2 separate regions of the Homo sapiens genome follow, and region 1 is linked to region 2. Evidence: fine-mapped expression QTL. A gene starts in region 2. The other region holds a variant in brackets. All regions are shown on one strand. Distances are between the middles of the regions. Region 1 overlaps MR1 (major histocompatibility complex, class I-related). Region 2 holds the start of MR1 (major histocompatibility complex, class I-related).

Region 1 (16,002 bases), 30 kb before region 2:
CTGGCAAAGGGGAATGGGAAGATACCAACATTTGGCTTTGACCAGTGATGATCCATCTCCTGTGGCTGGGCACCTTGCCACTCAAAGGAAATATCTGTTGTTAAAGGTAATCTGCTATGGCAGCCCTAAGACACTGATACTAGGGTCATTCAAACTGGCTGTGATCTCTACTTTTTTCTGTTCATACGTATGGTAGTCTATGAGGCTGAACTACAGCAGAGAGAGAGGAATAATTGGGAAAGATCTTGGGAGGGTCAGTAAAAAATGGGACCTAGAGTTTTAGGTGGAGGCTAAGGCCCCAGCCCAGGACAAAAATAGAACACCTCTACTGAGATTGTGATTGAATGGAAGAAGATAAAGGGAAATGGGATACAGGTCCATTTGTGGATGGAGGAGCTAAGGGACTTCTGAGAGCCTCAATTATCTTTGTAAAGTTGGAGGTAAGTGGGGTACTTTGTAAAGTAAGCAGGGAGCTTGAAGGGAGTGAAGAAACTTTGGAATAGCTGTTGTGGACAAAACTGACCAGGGTTAGACCTATTAAAATGCATGCCAAGAAAATTGAGATTCTGGCCATCATGTCTAATCAATATATGAATAAATTCCATGGGGAACTTCCCCTAAGGAAATATGCAGTGACTGAAGTTTGTTCATTAGATTGACTGGTACAGTCACAATGGGAAAGAAACGTTAGTTACACATCTTAGATAACATAAGCCCCCAAAAACGGGAGATTTACCTGTAGATTCAAGGTGCAGCCATGAAAAGCTAGACAAGAGCTGCTGCAAAGAAATCATCTTAAAACCCAACAATCAGAGTAATTGAAGTATAATCAGTCTTAAGTGGTAGCCCTCCTGCCTGTGCAAAAAGAGCTTAAAGTTCAAATCATCTCATTGAGCTGCTCACCACCAAGTGATGAGAATTTTCAGTCACGTAAGTAGATGATGGTCACCTTAGGTGGTGACGTCTTCAAATTATGGAAGATAGTAGCAAGATCCAGGAACCGAATACCTTGGGCTTTTTCTTCTATAGAATCTTTTTTTTTTTTTTTTCTTTGAGACAGAGTTTTGCTCTGGGCTCACTGTAACCTCCACCTCCCGGGTTCAAGCAATTCTCCTGCCTCAGCCTCCCAAGTAGCTGGGATTACAGGAACCCACAACCACCCCTGGCTAATTTTTGTATTTTTAGTAGAGACAGGATTTCACCATGTTGGCCAGGCGGGTCTCAAACTCCTGACCTCTAGTGATCTGCCCACCTCGACCTCTCAAAGTGCTGGAATTACAGGCATGAGCCACTATGCCCCGCCTAGAATCTTAAACCAGTGGAAACATCCCCAAAAATCCCCAAACAAATGATATTTAATATTATGATAGTGCCAAATTTTAATAGGACAACCTTTTCAGATTATTCCACTGTTAATGGATCCACTTAAGTATTTTTAATTTACAACTTACTGATTGCAAACTAAGTGCAATTTTTTAAAAAGAGGTTTTAGGTAGCTATAAAAGACACAGGTCACTTTAACTGGTCAATTTTATTATTTGGCTAGTCTTTACGGAACACTCTATAGCAATTAGTTTAATGTATTTAGTTAAACCAGATAATTACAAATATCCTAACAGAAATGAGGAGGTGCATTGTCCTTTAATTAAAAAAAATTTACTAGCCAGGTGCGGTGGCTCATGCCTGAAATCCCAGCACTGTGGGAAGCCGAGGCAGGCAGATCACCTGAGGTCGGGAGTTCGAGAGCAGCCTGACCAGCATGGAGAAACCCTGTCTAAACTAAAAATACAAAATTACCTGGGCGTAGTGGTGTATGCAAGTAGTCCCAGAGACTGAGGCAGGAGAATCGCTTGAACCCGGGAGGCAGAGGTTGCGGTGAGCCGAGATTGCACCATTGCACTCCAGCCTGGGCAACAACAGCAAAACTCCATCTCAAAAAAAAAAATAATAATAAAATAAAATAAATTTACTTTGAAATAATTATAGATTTGCAGGAAAGTGCAAAGACAACACAGAGAGGTTCCATGTACTGTTCACCAAGTTTCCTCCAAGGTTATATCTTACATAATTATGGTACAATATCAAAACCAAGAAATTGATATGGTTCAATATATGTGTATAGTTCTGTGTCATTTTATCACACATGTAGATCTGTATGACCACCACTGCAATCAGGATGCAGGACCATCCCATCACCACAAAGCTCTTTCTCATGCTACCCCTTCACAGTCTACTCATGCCCTCCCCTGAGCCATTCCTAACCCTGGCAACCACTAATCTGTTTTTCATCTCTATAATTTTGTCATTTTGAGAATGCTATATAAATGGAATTATATGGTAGGTGACCCTTTTGAGACTGGCATTTTTTACTCTGCACAATACCCTTGAGATTCATCCAAATTGTTGCATGCATCAGTAGTTCATTCCTTCCTATTGCTGAGTAATATTCCATGGCATGGATGTACCATCATTTAACAGTTCACTTATCAAGGGACATTTTGATTGTTTCTGGTTTGAGTCTATTACAAATAAAGCTGCTATGAGTATTCATATACAGATTTTTATGAGTACATAATTTTTCATTTCTCTAGGGTAAATGCCCAGGCATAAAATTGCTGGGTAAGTGTATATCAAGTTTTTAAAGAAATGGCCAAACTAATGGGTACAAAAAAACAAAGAATGAATAAGACTTACTACTTGATAGCACAATATGGTGACTATGTCAACAATAATGTAATTGTATATTTTTAAATAATCTTTCTTTCTTTCTTTCTTTTTTGTTTTTGAGACGGAGTCTCATTCTGTCACCCAGGCTGGAGTGCAGTGGCGTGATCCTGGCTCACTGCAAGCTCCGCCTCCCAGGTTCACGCCATTCTCCTGCTTCAGCCTCCCGAGTAGATGGGACTACAGGCGCCTACCATCACGCCCGGCTAATTTTTTGTATTTCGTTTAGTAGAGACGGGGTTTCACCGTGTTAGCCAGGATGGTCTCGATCTCCTGACCTTCTTGTGATCTGCCCGCCTCAGCCTCCCAAAGTGCTGGGATTACAGGCATGAGCCACCGCGCCCAGCCATATTTTTAAATTATCTAAAGAATGTAATTAGATTGTTTATAATTTAAAGGATGAATGTTTGAGGAGATGAATACCCCATTCTCCATGATGTGCTTATTTCATAGTTCATGCCTGTATCAAAACATCTCATGTACCCCATAAATATATACACAAAAACTTTATAAAAAGAAATGACCAAACTGTTTTGAGTTTTTCCACATCCTCACCAGCATTTGGTATTATCACTTCTTTTTGTTAAGAGACAAAGGTCTCTCTCTCCCTCTCGCTCCCCTACCCTCCATACCCCAAGCTAGAGTGCCGCTCGCCCGACAGCACAGGCTAGAGTGCTGTGGCACAAACACAGCTCACTGTATCCTTGACTTCCTGGGCTCAAGTGATCCTCCAGCCTCAGCCTCCTGAGCAGCTGGGACTACAGGCAGATTTCACCATGCCTAGCTAATTTTTTTTTTTAATTTTTTATAGAATCAGAGTCTCACCATGTTCCTTAGGCTGATTCTGAACTCCTGGACTCAAGTGATACTCCCAAAGTATCACTTTTGGACTCAAGTGATACTCAAGTGAGCCTACCAAAGTGCAGGGATTGTAGGTGTGAGCCACCGCACCCAGCCTTCTTTTATTTTAGCTGTTCTTAGAGATATGCAGTGATAGCTCATTGTGCTCTTAATTTGCATTTCCCTAATGACTAGAGATGTTGAACATTTATGTCAAGACATGAGGTTTATCATTGGTTTCAGGGTTTCTTTTGGCAAATCACTTTACTCACTCTAGCCTCAATTTTCTCATATGTTAAATGAGAAAATTGCCGGGCGCGGTGGCTCACGCCTGTAATCCCAGCACTTTGGGAGGCCGAGATGGGTGGATCACAAGGTCAGGGGTTTGAGACCAGCCTGACCAACATGGCGAAACCCCGTCTCTACTAAAAATACAAAAATTAGCTGGGCGTGGTGGTGGGCACCTGTAATCCCAGCTACTCAGGAGGCTGAGGCGGGAGAATTGCTTGAACCCGGGAGGCGGAGGTTGCAGTGAACCGAGATTGCGCCACTGCACTCCAGCCTGGGCGACAGAGAGAGACTCTGTCTCAAAAAAAAAAAAAAAAAATGAGAAAATTGAACTATATGACACTCAATGGGCCCTCCAGCTCTGCAATTCTGTGTGCCCATAGATCTACCCTGGGTGAGTTGTTTTTGCAAGGTGAGGGAGCTTATACTTTTTCCTTTATGCACCAGCATCTCCATATACTAAGAATCAACAAGTAGCGAATGTTATCCACGGGTTTCACTGACATGTCCATGAAATGTGTGGTAACTTGCTTCATTTGGCCCTTTAGGCCTTGTTCAGCCTTTAAGTCACATCATCAAAGTCAGAGGAAAAAGATTCAAACTTTCCTAAATTTATCAGGGCCTTTATTAATTTTTGATTCATTGCACAGATGTTTGAACTCCTTTGTTCCCAAGATTAAGTACAGAACATAGTGTCGGCGAAAAGAATCGAACTCTGTAAAATATTTGAAGAGATTTATTCTGAGCCAAATGTGAGTGAGTGACCATGGCCCAGGAGGTCCTGAGAACATGTGCCCAAGGTGGTCAGGGAGCAGCTTGGTTTTATATATTTGAGGGGGGCATGAGACATCAATCGAATGCATTTAAAAAATACATTGGTTTGGTCCAGAAAGACTGAACAACTCAAAGTGGGGGCTTCCAGGCTATAGGTGAATTTAAACATTTTCTGGTTGACAATTGGTTGAGTTTGCCTAAAGACCTGGGATAGATAGAAAGGGAATGTTCAGGTTAAGATAAAGATTGTGGAGACCAAAGTTCTTTTTAAGTCTTACAGTGGCTTAAAGACAATAGGGGACAAATGTTTCCTATTCAGATCTTAGTTAATCTTTTTAGGATTGGGAGGGTCTGGAAGAAAAAGATCTAGCTATGTTAATAGAGATTCTTTACAGATGCAAATTTCCCCTGACAAAGAACAGCTTTGCAGGGCCAATTCAAAATAAGGCAAAGAAACATGTTTTGAGGTTTAAAATATATATATATTTAAATTAATATTAATATTTAAATTACATTAAAATTGATATATTTAAATTAATATTAAATATATTACATATCATATATATATATGTTTTTTTGAGATGGAGTCTCACTGTGTCACCCAGGCTGGCGTGCAGTGGCGTGCAGTGGCGTGATCTCGGCTCATTGCAACCTCTGCCTCCGCTGGGTTCAAGTGATTCTCCTGCCTCAGCCTCCCGAGTAGCTGGGATTACAGGTGACTGCCACTGCGCCCATCTAATTTTTGTGGGTTTTTTTTTTTTGAGACGGAGTCTTCCTCTGTAGCCCAGGCTGGAGTGCAGTGACGCGATCTCGGCTCACTGCAACCTCTGCCTCCTGGGTCCCGGTTCAAGCAATTCTCCTGCCTCAGCCTCCCAAGTAGCTGGGATTATAGGCACACACCACTATGCTCAGCTAATTTTTGTATTTTTAGTAGAGACAGGGTTTCACCATGTTGGCCAGGGTGGTCTTGAACTCCTGACCTTGTGATCCGCCTGCCTCGGCCTCCCAAAGTGCTGGGATTCAGGCGTGAGCCACCACGCCTGGCCAGGTTAAAATATTTTGATTTTCTTCTTTGTCTGGTAATGTTATGTCAGAGTCAAGTTGGAAAATAAATCATGATATGTAGGGTTAAATAAAACCCATCTGATGAGAATTTATGATTTATAGAGCATGACTCCCCAGTCCCCTTAGATAAGAATTTGGGCAAGATAAAAAAATCAGAGTTTAGTCCTCAATAGTTTTAAGTGGATGACACCTCACAGTTTTGGTCAGGCATTGATGGAGTGGGCCTACTGTGTGCAGATAGGACAGTGCCCTGTGTGCAGATAGGACAGTGCCCAGACTCAAGACAGTGTCTTGAGTCTGAATCATGCCTCTGCCACTTATTAACTATATAACCTTGTCAAGAAATACAATTTATCTGAACTTCAACAAAATAATAATAATAATACCTGCTGCCAACGTTGTTATGAGGAATAGAAGTAATATATGTGAAGTACCCAGTGCATAGTAAGCACCCATAAATGGTGGCTGCGATTATATGGGACATGGGGAGCAGTCCCTGGAGAGCACGTAGAGGAAGACACATCCCAGATGCCATTTCTTTGCAATATGCTTGCACACACACATCTCCTTTAATCCCCACTTTGACACTGGAAGACAGGTATTGACTAGCCCCGGGTTTTATAAAAATGAGGCTCAGAGAAGTTAAACAACTTAAGATCACCCTGATACTAAGTGAAGGACACAGAATTCACATTGTGCCCTTAAGGGGTTTATAGTCCAGCCAGGGAGATAAGCCGAGCAGAAACAGATAAATACCAACACAGAATAGCTAAGTGTCAGTTGAGTGGCAGAGCTGAAAAGCACTTAGGCGTTTAGTAAGGGAATTATTTCTCTGAGGATAGGCTATCAGGAAGACAAAAGGAAACTAGAGGATTAGAAGTTCCTCTGTCTCACTGAACATCTCTGAGTTCCTTGCTGTCGCCATCGCCACTGCCTATGGGTCCTCTTAGCCCAGCCCAGCGGCTGCAGGGAAGGAGGCAGTGCTGAGCCCTTCATCCTCCCCATGTCCTTTGTTTCATGGCATATTTATGTGCAGGCCCTCCCATCTCACTTGAAAGTTTTATTCAACCTGTGTCTTCAGTATTACTATGAAAGCTCACTGTCAGAGTTGTATTTCTTTCTTTCTTTTCTTTTTTTTTTTTTTTTTTTTTTTTTTTTGAGACAGAGTTTCGCTCTTGTCGCCCAGGCTGGAGTGCAATGGTGCAATCTTGGCTCACTGCAACCTCTGCCTCCCAGGTTCAAGTGATTCTCCTGCCTCACCCTCCCAAGTAGCTGGGATTATAGGCACCAGCAACCACACCCAGCTAATTTTTTTGTATTTTTAGTAGAGACGGGGTTTCACCATGTTGCCCAGGCTGGTCTCGAACTCCTGACCTCAAGTGATCTGCCCGCCTTGGCCTCCCAAAGTGCTGGGATTACAGGTGTAAGCTACCGTGCCCCCAGCCAGAGTTGTATTTCTTCTGTTAGCAGAAAACCCAGGGACTGTTTTATAGAAATGCATTCTAGATTACAATCTCTAAAATTATTTTCTGTGATGTGAGCTTGATTTTTCTATAAGCATATGTCTGGGCCATTTTTGTACTTGCTAATTTTCAGAACATCATTGTGCTGTGTTGCCTACAGAGTCTGGCTTGTAGGAGCAGCAGTTCATTTTGTCAATATGCATATGTACTGAGTGCCTACTATGTGCCAGGCACTGAAGTGTCAGGCCTTATGGCGCATATATTTCATGAATGGTTGATTAACTAATGAAGGCCATAAGAATTTGATTTAAATATCAGTATTTGTGGCAGATTATTAATAAGAAACTGGGGTAAAAAAAACTCTGTGGCTTGAATGAAAATATGGTGTATACCATGCCACACAGAAAAAACGAATAATTCCTTGTGGCTGGGGGCAGTCTCTAAAAATGTCATCATTAGGCCCAGAAACATGTCATCTTGTAGACTAATTTCAAGTCTGTGAAGCTGCACTAGTTTACAGATCTTTGAAATTTGATCTCAATTTCAGTTGCAAAGACCTAAATTGGATTAGAACAGCTTGCCTGTCTTCTTCAGGGATCCTCAGGGACCAATGACCATTCAGTCTTTTAACAGTAAGGTGAAGGGCTGCCCATGTGCTCGGCCTTGGTGGGTTACATCTGGTTTGGCAACTTCCTGTTGTGTGTAACACAGGGACTGTGCATTCGTAGCTGTTTCGTGAGTAATATGCAGAGTGCATGTGTTGGGTATTTTAAAGTACGTGAGAGGGTTGTGTTTCAGCAGCTGATGGGATGCCAAATGTTTGACTTTTTATTATTCCAGCCCTTCAGATTTCCCCAGAATTGTCACCTTCTAGAGCGTGTGTCTTGCCAGTGTGTTCCAGGAATTCTCTATTTATGCCACTGTGATGTTGCTCAGAAAACAACAGAGCTTTCGGTTAGTTCAAGTAAACTTAGAATCTGCGCTGATGCCTCAGAAAGGAAGAAAGGCCAGGACGGCCTCGGCTTGGGTGG[C/T]ACTCTTATTTCTCCCTTGGTTTCACTTCCTTATTTTCGTGGCTTCCCATTTCATCCTGTAGCCTCCTCTCAGAAGCTGTTTCCCCCCTTCCTACTCCCTTCCCACCCCCGGGTTGTTTCCCCGGTTGTTCCCACACTCTAGCCCATTTGTGTCCTCAGAGGTCTGGCCGCTGCCACTGCACCTGCCTCAGACCCAGTGTCACCTCGCCAGGGCTTCAGCCAGCCTGACCTTCCAGCTGCCACCCAGCAGCTCAGCTTAGGGACTCAGAACCTTCTGGCCCAGACCTTCATACCCAACTCCCGCCCAGGGGCAAATGCAGAAGCCTCTGCTGGTGCAGCCAACACGGAGTGGGGGCAAGGCGGAGAGGAAAAGCAACAGCTCAGGGTGTGGTAAGAGTGCTCAGGGTGCTTCCCAGCTCAGGGCATTGGTAAGAGTGGGTGGAATTTGCATGTTAAGAACTTTCATTAACCAAATACCCAAATGGTGACAGAAAAGCAAATTCAGACTAGTTACATTTCTGGAAGGTTTCAGATATTTGGGCCCCCAAGATGGCTGAGAACTCATTTCTCAGCACCTCTTCTCATAGCCTTCGAGAAAAACAGTACCTCCCATAAGAACCTCCGAATTCTATCTTTGTCTTTAATATGTATGTGTTGGGTGGGGTGGGGGTATTGATGGAATGTTTCAGATCACTAATCTCACAGACAATGCAATGACAAGATAAAGTTTATTAGATGGAGAATGTTAATACAGCTGAAACCTTTGAAGAATTCAGACCAGTCCTCAAACCATTCATCCTGAGTACCTGGAATGTTATATGATCTTGAGTGGGATATTTCCCCTCTATGACTTCAGCTGTAAGATGACACTGTTCTTTTGTACCAGTACATGAAGACTAGCTAATTAAAATACTATACTAGTTCATTCAAAAAGTATTTACTGAGTTGCTACTACGTACAAGGCATCATGCAAACAGACTGTGCAGTATTACATAAAATTTTTAAAATAGATTTCCATAAATAAACACCATGATAGGATTATGTAACATCTTCCAGGGAATTTTAACCGTTTGGATGTACTACACAGTGGTTCTGGTTCTACCAGTCTAAATGAATTGACTTGTTTTTTTTTCCACCATCACTCCTCCCTTTCAATTCAATTCATTCATTCTGGTGTGCAGCCCATTTCTGTCTATTTTCTAATGATATGACCAGAGCCACCATGTAGGCTTGTGCCCTGCACAAGGATAGATACCCCACTGGGGAACAAACGGGACCAAAATCTACTCTGTGTTCTGCTGGCCAAGCCGGGTGACCTGGCCTGGGCTGGCGTCCTCCCAGAAGAAGGGTTCATTTTTCCAGTTTGCACACATGTGCTATTTGTGGGTTAGCTGAGGCCCTGCTTATGTCTTCAGTTGGTTCACAAACCAGAAACAGAACAAATGGCCATCATTTGATTACAAATGTAATCAAACTAGATTTACAACCAAGGCTTGCTGAGTGGCATTATGGGTTTTATCCTGTTGCATGGCAAGCCGCTCATGCACGGGCTGTGCTCAGTGTCCTTTTTCCTCAGCCATGCCAGCCATGGGGAAGCAGGAGGGGAGCTTGTTGGAGAAGGTGGCCTCAATGAGAGCCTTGGTGCATTCCCCTGAAGCCACAGTTTGGGGCTTCTCCCTCAGCAGGGGTCTCCACAGTCTGAGTGTTTTCAGAAATCTTATATCCAGGGGACCCCAAATCTTATGTCCAGGCCCCAGGGTCTGAACTCATATTTAAGTACTGAAAGGCATCAGCATCTCCCCTCTGGTTGAACTTGACCTTCTTACTGAGAACCAGCCAGGCAGGCATCAGAAGCCTCAGGCTCCAGAGGAGAAGCTGGTGGGCAAATAGGTCAGGAGCAACTGCTTTCACCATCAGGGATGAAAGTTGAAGACCAAGAACACTTCCTTGTCCTGTGGTGCAGGGGTTGGGATGGAGGGGTGAGTCTTATAAATGGAAGAGAACTAAGTGTTGTGATTTAAAGGAAGAACATTTGCCTCCTGCCCCCAAATGCTCCCAAACTCTCCAAAATTCCACAGATTCCTTTGGCTTAACTCCTTTCACAGAGGTAAGCTAAGGTAGTCAGTCTCACTGTAGTTGCGGTGAATTCATTTAATGATCTTGGTTTCCTAACTGCTAGATAATCCAGTGGAGCCAAAAAATTTTGGTGGATTGAGGGAACCTACAGAGGTTGGGTAGAGATGTGTTAGGAGTTGAATTGTTTCCTCCAAAAAATTCATGTTGAAGTTATAACCCCCAGTACCTCAGAATGTGGCCTTCTTTGGAAATAGGGTTGTTGCAGATGTAATTTGGGAAGGTGAGGTCATCCTGCAGTAGTAGAGTGGGTCCCTAATCCAGTATGACTGATGGCCTCATGAAAAAAGGAAATTTGGACACAAAGCCATGCATGCAGGGAGAACACCAAATGAAGACTAGAGTTACGCAGCCAGAAGGCAAGGAACAACCAGAAGATAGGAGGGAAGCCTGGAACAGATCCTTTCCCAGTCCCTTTAGAGGCAGCATGTTTCTGCCAACACTTCATTTTGAACTTCTGGCCTCCAGAACTGTGAAACAATAAATTTCTGTTGTTCCAAGCCACCCAGTTTTTGTGGTACTTTTAAACGACTACCCTTGGAAACCAGTACAAGGTGGAACGGGGAGACGATGGAGAACATGACATTGTGACATGTTGCATCTTTCCCAAAATGGCCACAATGATATCTCCCAACTACATGCTCTTCTTACAATGTAACTCTGACAATCTTCCTATTGAGTGTTGGGTTCTATACACCCTCTTTTTGAACCTGAGCAGGATTTTATGACTTCTTCACCAATGAGAGTATCACAAGAATGACATTTTGTGACTTCCAAGATTAGATTATATAAATGCTATGCACTTTGACTGTGATCTCTTGGGATACTCACTCTGAGGGAAGCTAGCTGCCATGTAAGCAGTGACTGCCCTGAGGCCACCATGTTGTGAGGAAGCCCAACCCACACAGAGAGATTACATGGAGAGTTCCTGAGACTACATGGAGGAGATGTAGCTGATGCCTGGCCACCACCCCTGGCTGCCCCATTTCTGTTCCAGCCACCACTTGCCTCCAACTCCATGAGAAGCCAGAACTGCTTACCCAAGCCATATCCAAATTCCTGACCCATAGAAACTATGAAAGAAAATAAAATGGGTATTGTTTTAAACCAATAGGTTTTGGGTTTTGTTACACAGTCTGTGGGGTTTGGGGCAACCAGAAGCTAGAAGGACAATGGAGAAAGGGAGGCCAGAGTGAAAAGGAGATGCAGAGATGTTACAGAGACATACAATGCTCAAAGATGGCAATTTCCAAAGAAAGAGAGGTGAAGGCAGCTCAGGCAGTGGAATCATCAACCTCTAAAAAGCACAATGTACTGAATGTCCTGAAGCTATTGGGGAAAAAAAAAAGATGAAAAGGGCAATGCAGTTAAGTGGGAAACACCTGGGCTGGGAGATGCCTGTGCTTCTTCCTAGCTCTGCTGCCCACAGCACATGGCTATGGGCAAAGCCCCCTGTCCTCCTTGGAGAACATTCTGTGAACTAATACACTGTGTGTGAGAAAATAGCAAACTCCAGAGAGCAGGTGCTAACAAGCAAGAATGTGTCCCCTTGCACCAATTCTGGGGTCATCAAGCACTCTACAGATTGTGATTTAGTTGTTCTTATGTAGATTTTCCTGCTGGAAGGTGTACTGACCAGCTGAGACAGATATCTGACCCACTTAGCAATTGTGTTTCTCACAGTAAATTAATACATTGGCACTCCACTTTATATATCCATCTGATCACTTTGTGGGGACACTAGACCTGCATATGTGAGGACAAAGACCCCAGACAGTGGTTTTCAAAATAAGGTGTGACTGCTCTGTGTGACTCTGGCAGAAAATGATCAGCTGGCCTCCCTAGTGGACAATCTGTTCCTCATAGCTACAAGTGCAAAAACATCTTCTCTCAGGCCAAAAAAAGAAGAGGAGAAACCAAGTCATTCCTCAGAAATAAGGAAAGGATCACAACTTGGAAATCATGGGAGTAAGAGGAGAGAGGAAAGGAGGACTGGCCCCTGATGGGAGAGCTCAGAAACTCTCGATGGAGTCTTGTTGGATTTTTCACCCTGCTCTTTAAACTGCTTTCTCTCCCTTAAATGTACCACATCAAAAACATCTGCCATTTAAATTTACCACATCTTGGTCTATATGCACATCAAAAACAAACAAACAAAAAAAACAAAAACAGGTAATAAATACAGTGGAGTTAAAAAAAAAAAAAAGAACAGAGTTGAACAGGTTTCTCATCTAGTGTTCTTGATCCAAAATATTCAGTAAAGAAAATTCAAAGCCAAAACATAGCTGTGGCAATAGCACAGTTATTTGTTTTTAATGTTTAGATCATGGTGTCAAATATTTCATAGGTTATGATTACTGAGCATCTGTACTCAACAACCATGAAGTAATGAAGCAATAACAAGGCTAAAACAATTAAGAAGTAATATAATCTTCAACCATCTATAGTAAAATGAAGGTTGCAGAATTTTAGGTATTACTTACTTATTTTATTTTTATTTTTTTGAGATGGAGTTTCACTCTTGTTGCCCAGGCTAGAGTGCGATGGCGCGATCTCGGCTCACCACAACCTCTGCCTCCCGGGTTCAAGCGGTTCTTCTGCCTCAGACTCCCGAGTAGCTGGGATTATAGGCATGCGCCACCATCCCCGGCTAATTTTGTATGTTTGGTAGAGACAGGGTTTCTCCATGTTGGTCAGGCTGGTCTCGAACTCCCGACCTCAGGTGATCTGCCCACCTCGGCCTCCCAAAATGCTGGGATTACAGGCATGAGCCACCGTGCCCGGCAGTATTTTTTTTTTAATCATCTCTTTATATTATGATTCTTTTAGTATTATAAAATCCCCCAGGAAGAAACATAAATGCTACAAGTGCATAACAGAATGTTTTGTCATCACATCCTTGTCCTTGCCTCCTCTTCATCCATTTGGACATATTATGTGTTAGGTGTAGGGCAAGGCCTTGGAAACACAGAGGCTTTTTATCTGTGTCTTTGATGAGAGTATCCTGCAGTTGCAGAATCAAAAGGCATTTACATAGATACATTATCACCTGTGTCTATGTAAATATGTACCTTTTCACTTTAAATGCCCACCCAAAAATATATTACATCCTAACTATTCTGATTGTAAGAAGAAACCATTCCAGAAATAAACTTGCCTACATTCTCTTCACAGTGCAACACTGCTTAAAAGTGGCACGGAAATTGCCCATGGCAACCCTAAAAACAAAATAAACACAACTGTGCTTCTATGCAACTCAACAGGCACCGGAAAAGAGAGATGTACAGTGGTAGCTTCATATATGGAATTACATGGGACAGTGGAGCAAGGAGGAAGCCTGGCAGGTGAGCTCTTAGAGGCCTGGCACACTGAGGGTATCTTTCTTTTTTTTTTTGGAGACAGAGTCTTGCTCCGTTGCCCAGGCTGGAGTGCAGTGGTGTGATCTCGGCTCACTGCCACCTCTGCCTTATAGATTCAAGTGATTCTCCTGCCTTAGCCTCCCAAGTAGCTGGGACTATAGGCACATGCCACCATGCCCAGCTAATTATTTGTATTTTAGTAGAGACAGGGTTTCACCGTGTTGCCCAGGCTGGTCTTGAACTCCTGAGCTCAGGGAATCCGCCTGCCTCAGCCTCCCAAAGTGCTAGGATTACAGGCGTGAGCCACTGTGCCCGGGCTGAAGGTACCTTTATCTGAGGCTGTAATGATTAAAGCCAAAGGTCAAATGTCACAGTCAAGGTCAAGGGAGAGCAGAGGTCAAACCTGAGGTGCAGGACAAAAGCCACTTGTCAAAGTTCAGGTCACTGAAGTAAGCATTAGGGCTCAGGTGCAGAGTCAAACGGGGTCAGAGAAGTAGGACCGAGGAATGTGTGACTGGCAGCCCCAGGGCAAGTAGCTCCACATGGCAGGGCAGTAGGTGAGGCCTCAGGGGTTGGGGATAGTAAGGAACATTAAGGGGATGTTCATTCTCACCATGGGCTTTTATTGATTCCCAGTGCATATGTATGAAGACAACCTATGTAGGAAGGCAAGTCATGCCCAGCTACCATGAGCCAGCACAGGAAAGGCAGAAATGAGAATTGAGCCCTCTCCTGACACCAAATATACTGTTATTATTATTATTATTATTATTATTATTATTATTATTATTTTGAGATAGAGTCTCACTCTGTCGCCAGGCTGGAGTGCAGTGGCGTGATCTCGGCTCACTGCAATCTCTGCCTCCCGGGTTCAAGCAATTCCCCTGTCTCAGCCTCCCAAGTAGCTGGGACTACAGGCACGCAACACCATGCCCAGCTAATTTTTTGTATTTTAGTAGAGACAGGGTTTCACCATATTGGCCAGGATGGTCTTAATCTCCTGACCTCGTGATCCGCCCGCCTTGGCTGCTCAAAGTGATGGGATTACAGGCGTGAGCCACTGCACCTGGCCATACTGTTATTTTTACATTAAAATAGTGCAGCTGGGTCCAGGTCTCTGTAGTTCCACTGGAGGTGATGATATGTCTGATAATTATTTCTCTTAATTTCCCACAAAAGACAAAAAGGGTGAGACTACCTCCATAGATCCAACCGGGCAGATTACCAAGATTCCAAGCTCCCAGGCAGGGTTGCTGTGAACAGCAGGGGACTTTGGCTTTCTCTCAGGCCAGAAAATGTATAAAAATAATCAGTCCATTCCCAGGCCATTGTAGAAACCTGCCGGCTACTCTCATGGAGTGATCCAATCCTACCTGTAGGGTCACAGTCATGGTGCCCATGATATTCAAAGCGCTTGTACAATAAATGTTCCCATGAAAGATGAATGAGAAAGGCCATTTTATGAAGTACTGAGGTTCCCTTCACATGGTGTTCAAGTGGAGGCTGGAGGCTCAAGTCCAAGGCATTGCAGAAGACAGTTCCTGCTCTGGTTGAAAAGATTCCTTCCTGCTCTGAGAATCTCCAACTAGTTGCAAATCATCATTGACAAATAGAATGTAGGGAAGCGTTGTGTCATGAGACAAGCTGTATTTAAAGTCAACTCTGATAAAACAGTCCATCAAAAGAGACTGAAAGCTGACAGTCTTTTTGGAGCCAAAGAACAAAGAACATTTTGTGGCTCCTCTGTTGCTGCCATAAATGCTCAATCCCATTACTCTCATGTATGTTGTGGGTGTCGTCAGGACCTTCAAGCACTAGGCTTGACTCTATGGGGGACAGAGGATAACATGGCTCCTAGAGGAAGGAGAACTGGAAAAGAGGGATCTGCAATCATCGATCTGGTGTTGGAAGGTAGATGGCTCCATTTTGCTCTGAAAGGAAAGGGGTTTTTAGTCAGATTACAAGAATGTTTCCTCACAGCTCAAAAATAAAGTATGCAGTGTTCAGCAAAATCTGAGAAACAGGCATCGACAGTTTTAGCTTGCTTTGTCAAGATTCTCTTAGTACTTGACAAACTTTAGCTCAAATTTGTAAACTCTATAAGATAAAAAGCAGGAACTCACAGTCTGTATAATTATTGAGAGAGGGATGTCATTGTAAAAAAATTTTTTGTTTGTTTCACTATCATTTATTGGATTAGGATTAGTGCTGTACTTTATCTATAAAGAAAACATTAACAACCCATTAACTCTCTGAGCTGATTTTCTTTTCTTTTCTTTTCTTTTTTCTTTTTTGAGACAGAGTCTCGCTCTTGCTGCCCAGGCT
Region 2 (16,002 bases):
CAGTTACCCATCTGGTGCCTCCACAGGAACAAGTCATGCTTGCTCCTTAGCTGGGCCTTTAAAATGTTACCTCTGCTGTGGTGGGAAGTTGATTGACACATGTTCAGTCAGTAACTCACAACAGAAAAGATGAGGAAAAGTCCAGGTACCCTCTCTCTCCTAGTACATTAAAACTTGTGATAATTTATATCCCACCAGGATTTGTTGCAGACATAATCAGATTTCGAATCATTTGGAAAGGCCAATATTTTACCATTTTTGACCTATAAAAATGGCAATTTCATATCATTTGATCTAATCTTCCATTTCTCTTTTCTCGCCCTAATAATTTTGAAATTAAGTCTCTCTCTCCCTTTCCATGAACAGATAGATCATCAGCATCAACTCACTTATTAAGCTGAAATATACAATTTAGAATTTGGTATTCTGTCTAAACCAGTCAAGCTACTTCTCAAAAGGCATCTCCTGCCCAGTCTCATCAGCTTCTGACAGATAGTGCTGGAGAACCCGAACGACACAACCAAAAACTCTTAGGCTAGGTGCAATGGCTACTTGATAGTTCTAAATCATGTTCCCTTTAACCTGTCCATTAACCAGTTGGGCCATTCTTACAAAAGGCTGTGAAAATCACTGGATTGTAAAATAATTGATGAAGTGTTTTCACTTCATCCATGAGGGCAATTTTTCTTTTCTTTTTTCTTTTTTTTTTTTTTTTGAGATGGAGTCTCGCTCTGACACCCAGGCTGGAGTGCAGTGGCATGATCTTGGCTCACTGCAACCTCTGCCTCCTGGGTTCAAGCAATTCTCCTGCCTCAGCCTCCAGAGTAGTTGGGATTATAGGCGCCCACCACTACACTCAGCTAATTTTTGTATTTTTAGTAGAGACAGGGTTTCACCATGTTGGTCAGGCTGGTCTCGAACTCATGACCTCAGGTGATCCACCCACCTCAGCCTCCCAAAATGTTGGGATTACAGGCGTGAGCCACCGCGCCCGGCCTCATGGGGGCAATTATTTATTTAGTGTCTACTATGTACAAGGAATTGGAGGCAATGTTAGGAAGAGAAGAACAAATCAAATACCAGCTCTTTCCTCCAGGAACTTACAGTATTATTGGGGAGCTAAAGCACATAACAAATAAATGAATTCCACCACACACGGCAACAAGCAGCAAGCGCCAGAAAAGAGTACCAATGGAGTGCTCCAGCCACTAGGAGAAGAGAGACCGTGGTCCCATGAGAAGGGATCCACTGGGAAATGTTCCAAGGAGGTGGCAGATCAGATGGGCCTTCAATGAGGCATAAAGGGCAGCAGCATCTTAATCATAGTCATCACAACTGTATTTGTTTATTGAGCACATACCTTGTGTTAGGTACCATTTTAAGCCCTTGATAAGCATGGGTTTCACTTATTCTTCTAACAAACTTTTGAGGTAGGTCTTATAATTCCAACCCACAGATAGAAAATAGGTGCAGAGAGGCCGGGTGTGGTGGCTCATGCCTGTAATCCCAGCACTTTGGGGGGCCAAGGCAGGCGGATCACCTGAGGTCAGGAGTTCAAGACCAGCCTTGCCAACACGGAGAAACTCTGTCCCTACTAAAAATGCAAAAAATTAGCTGGGTGTGGTGGCGCATGCCTGTAATCCCAGCTACTTGGGAGGCTGAGGCAGGAGAATCGCTTGAACCCAGGAGGCGGAGGTTGTAGTGAGCCGGGATCACGCCATTGCACTCCAGCCTGGGCAATAAGAGCAAAACTCCATCTCAAAAAAAAAGAAAAGAAAATAGGTGCAGAGAGATTAATTGCCCAAGATCATCCTCAGAATCCATAAGTGAAGGAACCAGGAATCACACTGTGATCTCTCCATGGGAAGTCCCTCTACCTTGAGACTACCCAACCCTCCCTAGTGTAGGGGAAGCTTTCCAGGCCAGGCTTCTAGCCCCTGGATTATCACTGCTCTCTCCTGCCCCCTTGTGTCAAGGATGACTCACTGCCTCTGATTTCCCAGTCCCTGGGGCCACAGGCTCCAGACCTTCCTACACACAGGTGGCCGTGAGTCCTGATTGGATAACCAGGTCAACACAGTCTGATTATTTATTGGCTCTCTCAAGAAGTCCAATGCCTTAATAAGGTCAAAATGATTATGATTCCTGGGAATGACTCTTTAGAATTTCGAGCATCGTGGGAATGAGGGGAGAAGTAGGTGGCAATATTTTTAGTTAAGGGGACCTTTGGACACATCTCAGGCCATGTTCATGGATGGTTCTATGTGCAGCAAGAACCATTAGTCCCCTCTCCTAATGACATGTCTAACTAACTACAGGAACTTAGAGCATAAAAGTGGCGACTGTGACAAGTTTGGCTTGTGAGCTACTCTTCTGAGGCTACCCTTTTGAAGGTTGCCAATGTCTCACTTCATATAGGTATATTCTTTTCTGAATGTCCAATAAGCACAGTCCTAGCTGCTGGAAACAGAGCAATGAACACATGAAAGTCCCAGCCCTGTGAGATAATTTCTAGACAGGAGATTGGCAATAAATACATATATAATACAAGGTCAGGTGGAGATAAAGATTATGAAGAAAAGTAAAGCAGAGAAAAGAGAGTGTGGAGAGGAGAAGGCCTGATCTTTTAGATAGAGGGACCACAGCAGGTGGCATTTGAGCAGAGATGTGAATGGAGTAAGAAAGTGAGCCCTGTAGGACTATGTGGAGTTTTGGAAAACGAATGAATGAGCTCTGGTGTCTTTTTTCCCTCAGTACTCTCTGTACACAATGATGACTATATGTCTTATGTTTCCCAGAAAATCCCGATTTTATAAATTTTATTTTTCTAAAATGATCCTTTGAAGTTATAACAAAATGTGACTTAATATGTATACTCTTGAAAGATTTTCCCCGATAAATATAAATTCATACATCAGAAAAAACATCCTTTGTCATCTTTCTCAATTTGAGTTCCCTAAAATAAGTGTTCAAAGAGTCATGTGTTTGATCTTTAACTTAGGCTCCTTTCCTCCAGCTCTTAGCAATACTGTGGGGTAAGAGGATTGGGGTCAAGTGAGAATAGACAGATATTTCAACTAGTCAAAAGAAAAATCTACAAATTAGTTGAATTTCTCAAGTTTAGATAGATTCAATGCCAATTAAGAAGAGGGCCTTAGGGGAGTGAAACATTGTCTTGGAGAAATTTCTATGGCATATACCTTGGCAACAGCTCCATGGAAACAGACTGAAGTCTATCTAATAAAGTCTAAAGAAAAAGCCCATATTTTCTCATGTTAACTCTTTGAACTCAAGGTCACTTCTAAGCAGATAATATGCAAGTCTGTTTTTTAACAGTAACCCAGTTGGCAGCTTAGGGAGCTTATCCATCATCAGACCTCGCCTGTGAAGGACTCCACCATTCATGAAGTAGATTGATATAGCAGATTTATACAGCCATAAAATTATGAGTAATATCAAGAGACTGACCTTGGTTATGTCGAGATGAAACATACAAATCACATATGGCAATGCATGAGAAATCTCATGCCAGCCCCCAGTCTGATTACACCCACCCATATCGCCAATTCACAGTTTCACACAGGCTGAAATGAAGAACAAGATGAGTTGTAAAAGCATGAAACACCTTTTTAATACAAATCCTGCAACTACAGTAAGCCACAGTTTTGAATTTGCAGTCGTTATTACTGCCCGAGCTCTCTATGGCTCCCAGTCAAATAACTGTGATTTCTTAGGGACATTACCTCCGAACATAAATTCACTCAGCAAACATTTACTAAGTGCCTGTTGGGCACTAGGTATACCAGAGAAATAAGAAAAAAATGAAGATATCTCTTTCTGTCTTTAAGGAGAGCCTCAAAGAGAAGATTTTTGTAAATGGAAAATTACAGAACTGTGAACAGGAGCCATGGGAGCACAAAGGAAGGAGGAGTCAACTGCAGGCTGTGGAGTTGATGAAAGCAACACACTGAAAGTGATATTGGAGTTATGTTGACATTTCCTGGAGTAATGACCCACAACCCTGCAGTATCTCTTCCCCGTGTTTCCCCATCTATTACTGGTATATAGCTCCCACTCAGGGCTAGCACTAGGCATAAATATCAAGTAGACTGAGTCTTCTTTCATAATCTCATATCCTTTTCCAGCCAATATCCCTCAAAGCCCAGGAATGTTCAGTTAGGGTCCTAGCAGGAAACAGCCTTCAAGCCAGATGGGTCATGTGAGGAGACCTTAATGAAGGGACTCCTTGCAGAGATATGGTCAAGGTTAACGGAACAAACAAGGATGATGGGCATCTGCAGGCTAACAACTATGGGAAGCCATTATCACCCCTAGGGCTTAAGAGATAAGAATAGCAAATACCGTTACTGAAGCCCAATGGGAGCTAGAACCATGAAGAAGGGGTTATTCAGGGAAGACAGCATTACAGAAGAACATAGCTACTGCCAAAGACATCACAGAAAGTGGGGAAGGAGCAAGAAAGATGTATCCCAGCCTCTCTTTCCTCCCTGCTCTCTGACATCTCTCCTTTCAGTGTCTCCCATTGTATGAACCCAAGCAGAAATCAGCTTGCAAGAGAGTCTAGGTGATGCAGTCTAGCAGTCAGCCTCAAGGACACAGAACAGAACAGAGAAGGATGCACTCTAAGGAGTCAGAAGGAGAACAGCCAGCACCAAGTGACCTTCCCTTGCCTTTATAACTTACTTGTTTTATTTCCTGTCCCCCCAATTATCAAAGTGACAAGTCTTCACACCCAAAGGAGCAATGACATTGTGGAACAGCCCTGGACCGAGGGCCAGAAGATCTGCAGTCTCCTTCAGGTTGCTCCTTATGTGAGCGTGGTCACTCTCTAGGCCTAGAGAAAAATCTAGGCCTCATCTTTAAATGGGGATATTTTCTTCACCTACTACAAATAGTCAGTGAGATTGTCATAGGAGATAATATGTTTAAGGAATATTATTCCATATTATTGGAGAGTTCTTTGAGAATCACATGCAGGTAATATATAAGCTTTATTATTTCCAAAAATATCACCCTTTGCCTCTCTCCTCCTTTCCTCTTTCATCTTCTGCCTCTTACCCTCACCCCCAATCTTTCCCATAAATGATGACACTTTCTGGATTAAATTTTCATGGAAGCAGAGACTATGTTTGTCTTGTTCGCTGCCATATCCCCCAAAGTGCCTGGCACATAGTAGGCCATCAATCAATATTTGAACAATTAATATATGGATTTTTTTTTTTTGAGATGGAGTCTCACTCTGTCACCCAGGCTAGAGTGCAGTGGCATGATCTCGGCTCACTGCAACCTCCGCCTCCTGGGTTCAAGTGATTCTCCTGCCTCAGTCTCCCGAGTAGCTGGGATCACAGGTGCGCACTGTGCACAGCTAATTTTTTGTATTTTTAGTAGAGATGGGTGTGCCGAGCTAATTTTTTGTATTTTTAGTGAGATGGGGTTTCACTATGATGGCCAAGCTGGTTTCAAACTCCTGACCTCAAGCGATCCGTCTGCCTCGGCCTCTCAACGTGCTAGGATTACAGGTGTGAGCCACCACTCCCAGCCATATGATTTAAAATTTTTTTATTTGTATAAATTTATGATGTACACATGCAATTTTGTTATAGCATAGATTGTGTAGTGGTCAAGTTGGGGCTTTAAGGTATCCATCACCCAAGTAACACACATTGTACCCATTAAGTAATTTCTAATCATCCACCCCCCTCGCCCTTCCAAATCTCCATGGTCAGTCATTCCACTCTCTATGTGCATGGGTGATTTGAAAGAACTCCTTCCTCTCATGTTCATCAGTCACACCTATGGTGGTGGCCAAGTCTAAGTTCTGGACACTGCCCACCAGTACCAGTCCTCAGCCCAGGGAGCAAGTGATTAGGGCAGAGAAGCCTGGTGGTTCTAGCCCATGGGCCCTTTCCCCTATTTGAGGCAACAGAAGGCATTTGCTTCCCCAGTGACTTGAGCTCCCCGAATAATGAAAAACTCTCCCTTCTACTTGATTAATACTTCTCACAGTCAGTAAACAAACCCAGAGCCATGGTTTTATCTTTCTTGGATCTTTTATTACAGGTAGGGCTTGTGTTGAGGAAAAACATAAATAAACCTGAACAATGGATCTACTCCACTGTTAATGCCCCTGAAACTCTGACTACATCCTCATGAGACTCTGGAAGTTAGAAAAGAGGAGAAACAAAAGTAAAAGAAAAAATATGAGCAGAAAAGAAAGGAGGCCATGCTCAGAGGGAAAGTGAGGAAGTTCCAGAGTCTTTCTAGAACGGCTCCCCCTCCCTCAGAAGGTGGTGACATCAAAATCCTACAAATATGAACTGGGAAACTGTTCAGGCAATCCATTGCTCCTGGAGTCTGAGTGTAATACATACACGTTTCTGCCCCTGGCTTCTATATTTTTCACCACAAGTTTTAGGAAGAAAAGCTGTGCCTTCTAGGCTGCCTCGACTTTGGAGTTAGGAGAGAAGAGGACGTGGGATACTCACGGGAATCGCTGTGCTTCACCATTAACACAATGATGAGAGGTAACAGGAACGCCATCAGTTCCCCCATAGTCCTTCTCTTTCCGGGTTCTTTTAACCAAAAACTGACAGGTCCCTTCTGAGAACCTCTTGGTGACACACAAGGCCTTCTCCCAATAAGAACAGGGGAAGATATGCAGTGTCATCAGTTGCTAGGTTAAAAAAAAAAGATAAAATGAAAGCATGAACACCTTCTTCGGTAACTTTTAAGTCTTTGCTGGTTTCAGACACTGCTTGCTCCTTTTGGTGTATCTATCTTCACCCTATTCCCAATTTTTAAATATTTATGGAGCATAGTCATGTTCAAAGCACAGAGAAACAAAGATTAATCATATCTGGTCAATCAGGGAGCTCAAGCTGCTGCCTCTGCTTCCCTGGAGCTTAGAATTTTGCTTAAGGGTCAGTAAGAAAGAGTCACAGTTCCCACGGCTTGGAACTCCCTGCTCTGGCTCCCTATGATGCTGAAGTCTCTGTCTGAGATAGCAGGTGTCACTTAGATTGTCCCGTAATCTTCAACTTAGGTCTGTCCTCCCTGCTACTCTAGCACCCAGCACAATAAGCTCAAAACACTTACTGAATAAAAGAAGGCAAGAGAAAGGCCTACAGAAGATTCTGAGGGGCAGCCACTCAGCTTGCTCAATCAGCAATCCCCAAGATCAAGCTGTGGCTACACTGTCATAAGGAGCACATGACAAGCTGGAAAACAGCAGCTTAAGCTTGTCCAGGGAGCTAGGGAACAGGCCCAGACAGGAAAGAGGAAGTAGACATGAAGGGGAGAGGTGAATGGAGGCATGGCCATGAGGCAGGCAGGCTTGAGCTGGGTTCAGGGACCTGGGTTTGCCTCCCCACTATTTGACCATGGGCAGAATCCCAAATTGCACCAAGGCCTGATTTCTTCAACTTTAAAAGCAAATCCTGTCATATATTTCACAGAGTTGTTGAAGGATCAGAAGTTCTGTTTATGATGCATTTAGTAGGTAGTAGAACCTTATGTACCGGTTGTATGGTAGGTTGAGAATTGTCGCCCCAAAGATGTCCACAACCTAATTGCCAGAACCTGTGGATATATTACCTTAAATGGCAAAAACAAAATAAAACAAAACAAAACCCTTGGCAGATATGATTAAATTAAGGATCTTGAGACAGAGAGCTATCCTGGATTATCTGGTGGACCCAGTGTAATCAGAGGGGCCTTATTAGAGGGAGGCAAAAGGGTCAGAGTCAAGGAGATGTGACAATGGAAGCAAAGGTCAGAGTGATGATGCCATTGCTGAAAGAAGGACATGAGCCAAGGAACGCAGATGGCCTCTAGAACTAGAAAAGAGAAGGAACAGATTCTCCTTAGAGCCTCCAGAAGGAACACAACACTTTGATTTCAGCTGATAGGACACATTTTTGGACTTCTGTCCTCCAGAACTTTGAAAGAATAAATTTGCATTGTTCGAGGCCACTAAGTTGGTGGTAATTTGTTATAGCAGCAACAGGAAACTAATAGGTCTACCTTTACCCAGAATAAAATAAGAAGCCAAATAATGAAATTAACATTTGGCAATCTCTCAGCGGCCCCTGGCACCTTCTCTTCTCAGATCTTTGTATTTCTCTCTTCCTTTCCTTTCTGTTTCTTTACATTGTTTTTCCTTTTGTTACTCATTTAACAAATACAGTCACCTGGATTTCTCTTTTGGAAAACTCCCCCAATATTCCCAAATGTCTCTCAGCACTGGAATTCCATGGCCATGTATTTTTTCCTTTGAATTTTTGTTAATATCTTGTTCCAAAATGCATTCCATACCATAACCTGCTGTACTGACATTAAAAAGTAGGTATGAGGCCGGGCGCGGTGGCTCACGCCTGTAATCCCAGCACTTTGGGAGGCCGAGGCGGGCAGATCACGAGGTCAGGAGATCGAGACCATCCTGGAACATGGTGAAACCCTGTCTCTACTAAAAATACAAAAAATTAGCCAGGCGTGGTGGTGAGTGCCTGTAGTCCCAGCTACTCGGGAGGCTGAGGCAGGAGAATGGTGTGAACCCAGGAGGTAGAGGTTGCAGTGAGCTGAGATTGTGCCACTGCACTCCAGCCTGGGTGACAGAGCAAGGCTCCATCTCAAAAAAAAAAAAAAATGTAGGTATGTCAACGATGTCTTTCTTTTTTTTGAGACAGAGTCTCACTCTGTCGCCTAGGCTGAAGTGCAGTGGTGCCATCTCGGCTCACTGCAACCTCCGCCTCCCAGGTTCAAGCAATTCTCCTGACTCAGCCTCCTGAGTAGCTGGGATTACACACCCAGCTAATTTTTGTCTTTTTAGTAGAGATGGGGTTTTCCCATGTTGGCCAGGCTGGTCTTGAACTCCTGACCTCAGGATCCACCCACCTTGGCCTCCCAAAGTGCTGGGATTACAGGCGTGAGCCACCACACCTGACCGATGTCTTTCATTTTTTAAGTCATTGTATTCTAATTGCAAATTAGTAAATTTAATCCAGAGTACAGGGCAAATACATATAAAAAACCCAGAGAGTGATAAGATAAAAATCACCCATCAGAAAAAATTGCTGTTGGCCGGGCATGGTGGCTCACACCTGTAATCCCAACTTTGGGAGGCTGACGTGGGCAAATTGCTTGAGCCCAGGAGTTCAAGACCAGCCTGGGCAACATGGTGAAACCCCTATCTGTACTAAAAATACAAAAAATTAGCCAGGTGTGGTGCATGCGCCTGTAGTCTCAGCTACTTAGGTGGCTGAGGTGGGAGGATTGCTTGAGCCAGGGAGGTCAAGGCTGCAGTGAGCTGAGACGCCACTGTACTACAACCATGGCAACAGAAAGAAAGAAGGGAAGGAAGGAAGGAAGGAGAGAGAGAAGGAGGGAGGAAGAAAGGAAAAAATTTGCTGTTAACATATTTTAGTGTATTTCTTTTCAGTGGTTTTGCTGACTACATATGTCTGCATATAAGCATACCTTTATTTGTTCATTTTACCAAAAAAGGGTTTTACGTCCTAATAGTATTTTGTAAATTCTTTTCAAATTTATATTTTCCAATATTAATATGCAGTTTTTAATAGCATAGCTTTAATAGTCCTTAAAATTTTTAATAGATTCAATTATGCCAAGATCTTCAAGGACAGGTAAGACTGCCCCACTAAGCTGGGAGGCACTGAGGTAGGGAGAATCCCTCGCATTCTCTTTGTGGAAAAACAAGCCTCACCTCTGAGCAATAGTCTAAACTTAAATCTCAGGCCGCACTTTTCAGAGTGGGTTGTGCTTATCCTGTTCATTATAAATCCCTTTATGTGTTTGGCTTTTTAATACCTGATTTATTATATGTATTTTAAGGCCCCTCTGAGGAATCTGACTCATTTGCAGTTAGTGCAATTCATCCTTAAAAACCAAATGATGAATTATCAAGTTAGCAAAAGGGTCTTGTTTGTTAAATAATGTTGTTTTCAACATAATATATTTTATTATATTTAATCAGTAGTTTCCCCTTGGCTATTTCTTTTTTAATTCAGTAGAAGTGTGTGTGTGTGTGTGTGTGTGTGTGTGTGTGTCTGTGTCTGTGTCTGTGTCGAGTTTGATTTGAGCCCTTTTCTGTGGGTAGGTAAAATCCATTTGCCAATTTTTGGCCAAGGCTAGTCCTTGTACAAATGGGAGTAGAATACTGTAGCAAAGAACATGGGTTCAGGAGTCAAACTTATTTTCAAATGAGGCTCTGACATTTCCTACCTATGTGACCTTTGACCAAATTATTAACTTCTCTAAGTCTGGGATTTCTCATAGAAAATGGAGGTAATAACCAATTCTGCCTTACAGGATTATTGTGAGGATTCAATGAAATCAGCAGTGGTGGAACCAAGAAGTGACTTGTCACTTGTTGGGGCATTAGAGTACTTTTACTACACACGCATAATGGCCATCAGCTGTCTTAAGTAATCCCAAATAAACCTATAATTTAAGAAAAGAGGCCAGGCGCAGTGGCTCACGCCTGTAATCCCAGCACTTTGGGAGGCCAAGGTGGGCAGATCATGAGGTCAGGAGATCGAGACCAGCCTGGATAACATGGTGAAACCCCGTCTCTACTAAAAATACAAAAAATTAGCCGGGCGTGGTGGTGGTCGCCTGTAGTCCCAGCTACTCGGGAGGCTGAGGCAGGAGAATGGTGTGAACCTGGGAGGCAGAGCTTGCAGTGAGCAGAGATCGCACCACTGCACTCTAGCATGGGCGACAGAGTGAGACTCCATCTCAAAAAAAAAAAAAGAAAAGACAGGGGTCTCCCATGCCACATCAAGTCCCCTAGCCCTGCTGTCCAACCAAATTACATTCTAAAACCTGCCCCATATGGGGATTCTGGAGCTTCTGAAGATAATGCATGTGTGTCACTGTATTTGTTTTCACACTGCTGACAAATACATACCCAAGACTGGGCAATTTACAAAAGAAAGAGGTTTATTGGACTTACAGTTCCACATAGCTGGGGAGGCCTCACAATCATGGCTGAAGGCAAGGAAGAGTAAGCCACATCTTATGTGGATGGCAGCAGGCAGACAGGAGCTTGTGTAGGGAAACTCCACCTTATAATACTGCCAGATTTCATGAGACTTATTCGCTATCATGAGAACAGCACGGGAAAGACCTACCTCCATTATTCAATTACCTCCCACCAGGTCCCTCCCACCACAACACATGAGAATTCAAGATGAGATTTGGTTGGGTACACAGCCCAACCACATCGGTCACTTAGCACAATGCCTGGTACATAGTATGTAAATATTAGCAATCACTAGTACTATTATTGCAATGAGCCAGTTTACCAACACAGATTGATTTTTCTTTCCTTATACACAGTCACATTCATAAAGGATGGTAAAGAACATACCTCCCCTTCCTATAGTGGTTCAAATCCACCGTCTTGTCAAGAAATTCACTGAATTCCAATAACGTATTTCAGCTTTTTAGTACTCACCAATTTCCATTCATTCAGACCCTCCTAACTTGCCTTATTCTAAACAGGATTTAAAACTGTTATTTATTTATTTATTTATTTATTTTTTTGAGACAGGGTCTCACTGTCGCCTAGGCTGGAGTGCAGTGGCGTGAATATGGCTCACTACAACTTCTGCCTCCTGGCTCAAGTGATCCTCCCACCTCACCCTCACGAGTAGCTGGGACCATAGGCATAAGCCACTACACTTGGCTAATTTTTGTATTTTTTTTTTGTAGAGATGGGGTTTTGCCATGTTGCTCAGGCTGAAAACTGCTAACTTTTGATGTACTTTTTCGTATGTGGTCACTTGGCTTTTCACTTCTCTTTTATTACTTTTTCTCTTCTTTTTAAAAAACTTTTTGGATTTCTGACTATCCAAGTAAATATTTCACTGTAGTAGTTGACAAACTTTAAATAGATTTCTTTTTTCCTACGTGTAAAAATTTTCTATGTACCAAAACATTTTAATGTATAAGAAAGAACAGAGCTGAAATTGTATCATATGTATAATTTTGTGTCTTGCTGTTTTTACTCAAGCCATTCCTATGTCATTACATACTTTTAAACAACATTTCTAATGACCACCAAATGGATGTTCCACAAATTCTCCATCATTCCTTAGTGCTGAATATGTAAATTGACTGGAATTCCTCCTTGTTTATTTTAAATCAGTGTGTAGAGGGTGACAGTGGTGGAGGTGTTGGTAACAAACAGGAAGAGGAAATAAATCATGGCCAGTGTGTTTTGGATATGTGTATGGATATTTTCTGTGGTTGGAGGTAGGAAACATAGACAGTCATAGCCAGATCAATGGAACTTAACATAAGTGGAATGTTCTGGAATATGTACATGTATATCAGGGTTTCTAAAAGGTTGGATAATGATGAAGAGTATGATATCCTATATCTATGTTAACACTTTTCTCCCTTTCTTTACCTTGTTTCAAGAAGGATTTAGGGTGAACTCAACAAAAACAAAACAACTCAATCAAAAATGGGCAAAGGACTTGAATAGACATTTCTCCCCACCCCCCAAAAAAGATATACAAATGGCCAATAAGCACACGAATAGGTGCTTAACATCACTAATTATTAAAGAAATGTGAATCAAAACCATAATGAGATACCACCTCACACCTATTAGTACAACTGCTATAAGGGAAAAGAAAACCCAGAAAATAACAAGTGTTGATGAAGATATGAAGAAATTGGAATGCGTGTGTCTTTTAGCAGGAATGTAAAATGGAAAACAATATGACTGTTCTTCAAAAAAATTTAAAATAGAATTACCATATCCAGCAGTTCCACTTCTGGGTATATATCCAAAATAATGGAAAGCAGGGTCTCAAAGAGATATTTGTACACCAGCGTTCATAGCAGCATTATTCATTATAGCCAAAAGATGAAAGAAAGCCAAGTGTCGTCCACTGATGGATGAATGGACAAGCACAATGTGGTATATATACAATGGAATATTAGGCTTACAAAGGAAGGAAATTCTGCAATATGTAGAATGAATGAATGAACCTTGAAGATATCATGCTAACTGAAAGAAGCAAATCATAAAAAGACAGATCCTGTATGATTCCACTTATGTGAGGTACCCAGAGTAGTAAAATTCATAGAGACACACAGTAGAATGGTGGTTGCCAGAGATTGTTGGGGGAGAATGGGGAGTTGTTTAATGGGTATAGAGTTTCAGTTCTGCAAGATGAAAAGAGTTCTGGACATTGGTTGCACAACAAGGCAAATATATTTAACACTACTGAATTGTACACTTAAATATGGTTAAGATGGTAAATTTTATGTTATGTGTATTTTACCACAATTAAATTTTTTTTTTTTTTTGAGATGGAGTCTCGCTCTGTCGCCAGGCTGGAGGGCAGTGGCGTGATCTTGGCTCACTGCAACCCCTGCCTCCTGGGTTCAAGTGATTCTCCTGCCTCGGCCTCCCAAGTAGCTGGGACTACAGGCACGCACCACCAAGCCCAGCTAATTTTTGTATTTTTAGTAGAGATGGGGTTTCACCATGTTGGCCAGGATGGTCTCGATCTCTTGACCTTGTGATCTGCCCGCCTTGGCCTCCCAAAGTGCTGGGATTACAGGTGTGAGCCACCATGTCCGGCCTCATAAATTTAAAAAATAAAAAATTTAAAAAATAAAAAATTATTCCCATATATGATCCAGTTGTTCCTTATAACAGGCTAGTGAAGGAGCAGGCTGAATGTCATTATTTCAGAGTAGGGGAGATCCCCTTGTAGGGGTGTCATGGCATTCCCGCAGCTTCCAGGGGCAGGGGGTGGCTACCCACTGCAATCCCTCTCAGGTCTATCCTGGCATCCCCAGTGATATGGTTGGCTCCTTTCTGATCCTCAGCTCATTTGGCTGCCTGTGCCTTATTCTCTGTGTTGCCATCTCCTTATTTCTGCAGAAGATGCATTGCAGGACCCAGTGTGCTCCCTTCCTCATTCACTCTCCTAACTTTGGAGACTCACTCAGGAACCAGAGGTTCTCCTGGCTGCCCACTCAGAACTCTACAGAAAGCTCAGAGTTGGCATGTCAACCTCCCCCAGAAAAATGAACAGAAGTTAAGTCCAATTAAGAGTTTCGGTTTGAGGAATTCTGACAAATGATACTCTCATGTAACACACACTCCGTCAAGATACAGAGCATTTCTAGTACCCAAGAAAGTTTCCCTTCCCAGTCAAACTCTGTCCCCCAAGACAACCACTGTTTTGATTTTTTATTCCCTGAGAAATTTAAATTATTCTTTTGGGTTGGGGGTGGGGTAGGGGTGGGGGTGTGGGAAGAGATGGGTTTTTGCTGAGTATTCTTCCCAACCTATTGTTTATGCCAGGACGTGGGTCCTATTAAATGAAAAAAAAAAAAAAGAAAGAAAGAAAGAACCTCCTTTGTTTCTCCTTGCATTTTAGCCATAGCTTCCCTTTCCTTGTGGGCAGTGGAGGCCAAGGTCTAGTTTGAGAGAGGGTAAAGGAGGGTGACACATTAAAGAAAGGAACACCTACACACACACACACACATACACACATTTTATATCTTGACACTCCACTATCTCCATTGTTGGTGCTTTTTCTAATCCCCTAATTATGGGAACCCAAGCCTCTGTCCTCTATCTTCTATTACTACTTATAAAACTCTGGCCTGTCATATGTGGTCCAATTAAGAAATTCATGGAACAGATAATAAGAGGCCGTGTCAGGCACTTAGGTGATAATAACATTAACATAGTATCCTGTCCCTCCAGGAGTTTACTGTTTGGTGGGGATAAATGACATGCTAACAGCTAATTTACATTCACCCTAAATCAAATCCTCCTCTTGTGTTCTCTTTCTTGATGGTTGGAACCAACACTACCCATTTACAACCCCAGAAGCCTTCCTCCCTCTTCTTTCATCAATTCCCCCATACCCTGAACCAATCAGTCACCAAGTATACTAACTTTGCCTCTAAAGTATGTCTCAAATGCATCACTCTTCTCCACCTTAGTTGTCACAAGCCCAGCTCAGGATACCCTCATCCCTCCTCTGGACCATAACCTCCTAGCCACTGAAGCATCTGTCTCAAATGCCAATCTGACCCTGTCAATTCCCTCAGTCCCCATGGGGAACTGTCCATAGGAAGCGTCCACTATTCTGAACATTACAAACAAGGGCCCTGATAATCTGACCCTGTCCACCTCCAGGCTTAGCTCCTGCTGCCCCCATCCTTTTCCTTCTACTCCAGCAACATGGCCCCCTTCTCCTGGCTGCTTCTAGTCACTGCTTAGGAACCCCCTGCCCCAGCCCCGAAAACACACAAATATACTGGTATCTTGTCGCTGTGTTTCTATGGCAACCTGTGCCCTTCTCTCACTGTGTGTCTCTCCCACCAGTCTGTCTCTCCCACCAGTCTGACAGTTCCTTGAAGGCAAGAACCAAGCCTTGTTCATGCCTGTGTCTCAGTGCTTAGCACACAGTAGGAGCACAACATGTGTCAGGCACTGTTTTAAGCACTTTTCACACATCACCTCATGACACTCTATAAGGAAGCTGTTATTACGGTGTCTATTTCACAGTTGAGGATAGTGAGAGATGAAGCGGCTTGCCTGAGATGCAACAGTCAGGAAGCAGCAGAACTCAAGCAATCAGACTCCAAGGATGGTCTTCAACACCATGCTCACCTACCCCTCAATTTACATGTGCTTGTTGAATGAATGAACGATGACACGTTTTCACCTCCCCAGCTAAGTAAATTAAACAGTTCTCTCCCAATAAACATTAGCAATCACTAGTATTGGACACTGCTTCCTTTCCCCACATCTGCCTTCCATCATTCGCTCCTCCAGGGATTTTGGCTTTCACCCCTCTCTTCTCTCCCCTCCTGAAACCCATTCAGCCCCTCATCATGTCTAGGTGTTTAGTCTTGTTTTCCTTTTGAAACATCTGTCAGATTCACTCCTTCTCTGTTCTCAATCGCTGTCATCCT

The links. PIP is the estimated chance that this variant, and not a neighbour inherited with it, causes the effect.
Region 1: its variant is fine-mapped to the expression of MR1 in whole blood (INTERVAL, PIP above 0.99). The same link has a PIP of 0.9 or more in monocytes after LPS.

Annotation. Positions count from the first base shown.
Region 1 is chr1:181,054,831-181,070,832 of GRCh38, reverse strand. It overlaps MR1 (major histocompatibility complex, class I-related), which reads right to left. Exons shown (of 6, transcript NM_001385161.1): 6 at 8,895-15,608. The coding sequence ends at 15,568. Among named protein-coding and RNA genes, the nearest start is that of IER5, 26 kb to the left of the region's middle. RefSeq lists enhancers at 7,986-8,035, 8,676-8,805. The variant C/T (reference allele first, on the strand shown) is at 8,186.
Region 2 is chr1:181,024,579-181,040,580 of GRCh38, reverse strand. It overlaps MR1 (major histocompatibility complex, class I-related), which reads right to left and starts at 6,598. Exons shown (of 6, transcript NM_001385161.1): 1 at 6,507-6,598. The coding sequence starts at 6,573. RefSeq lists enhancers at 6,689-6,798, 6,929-7,028, 7,229-7,418.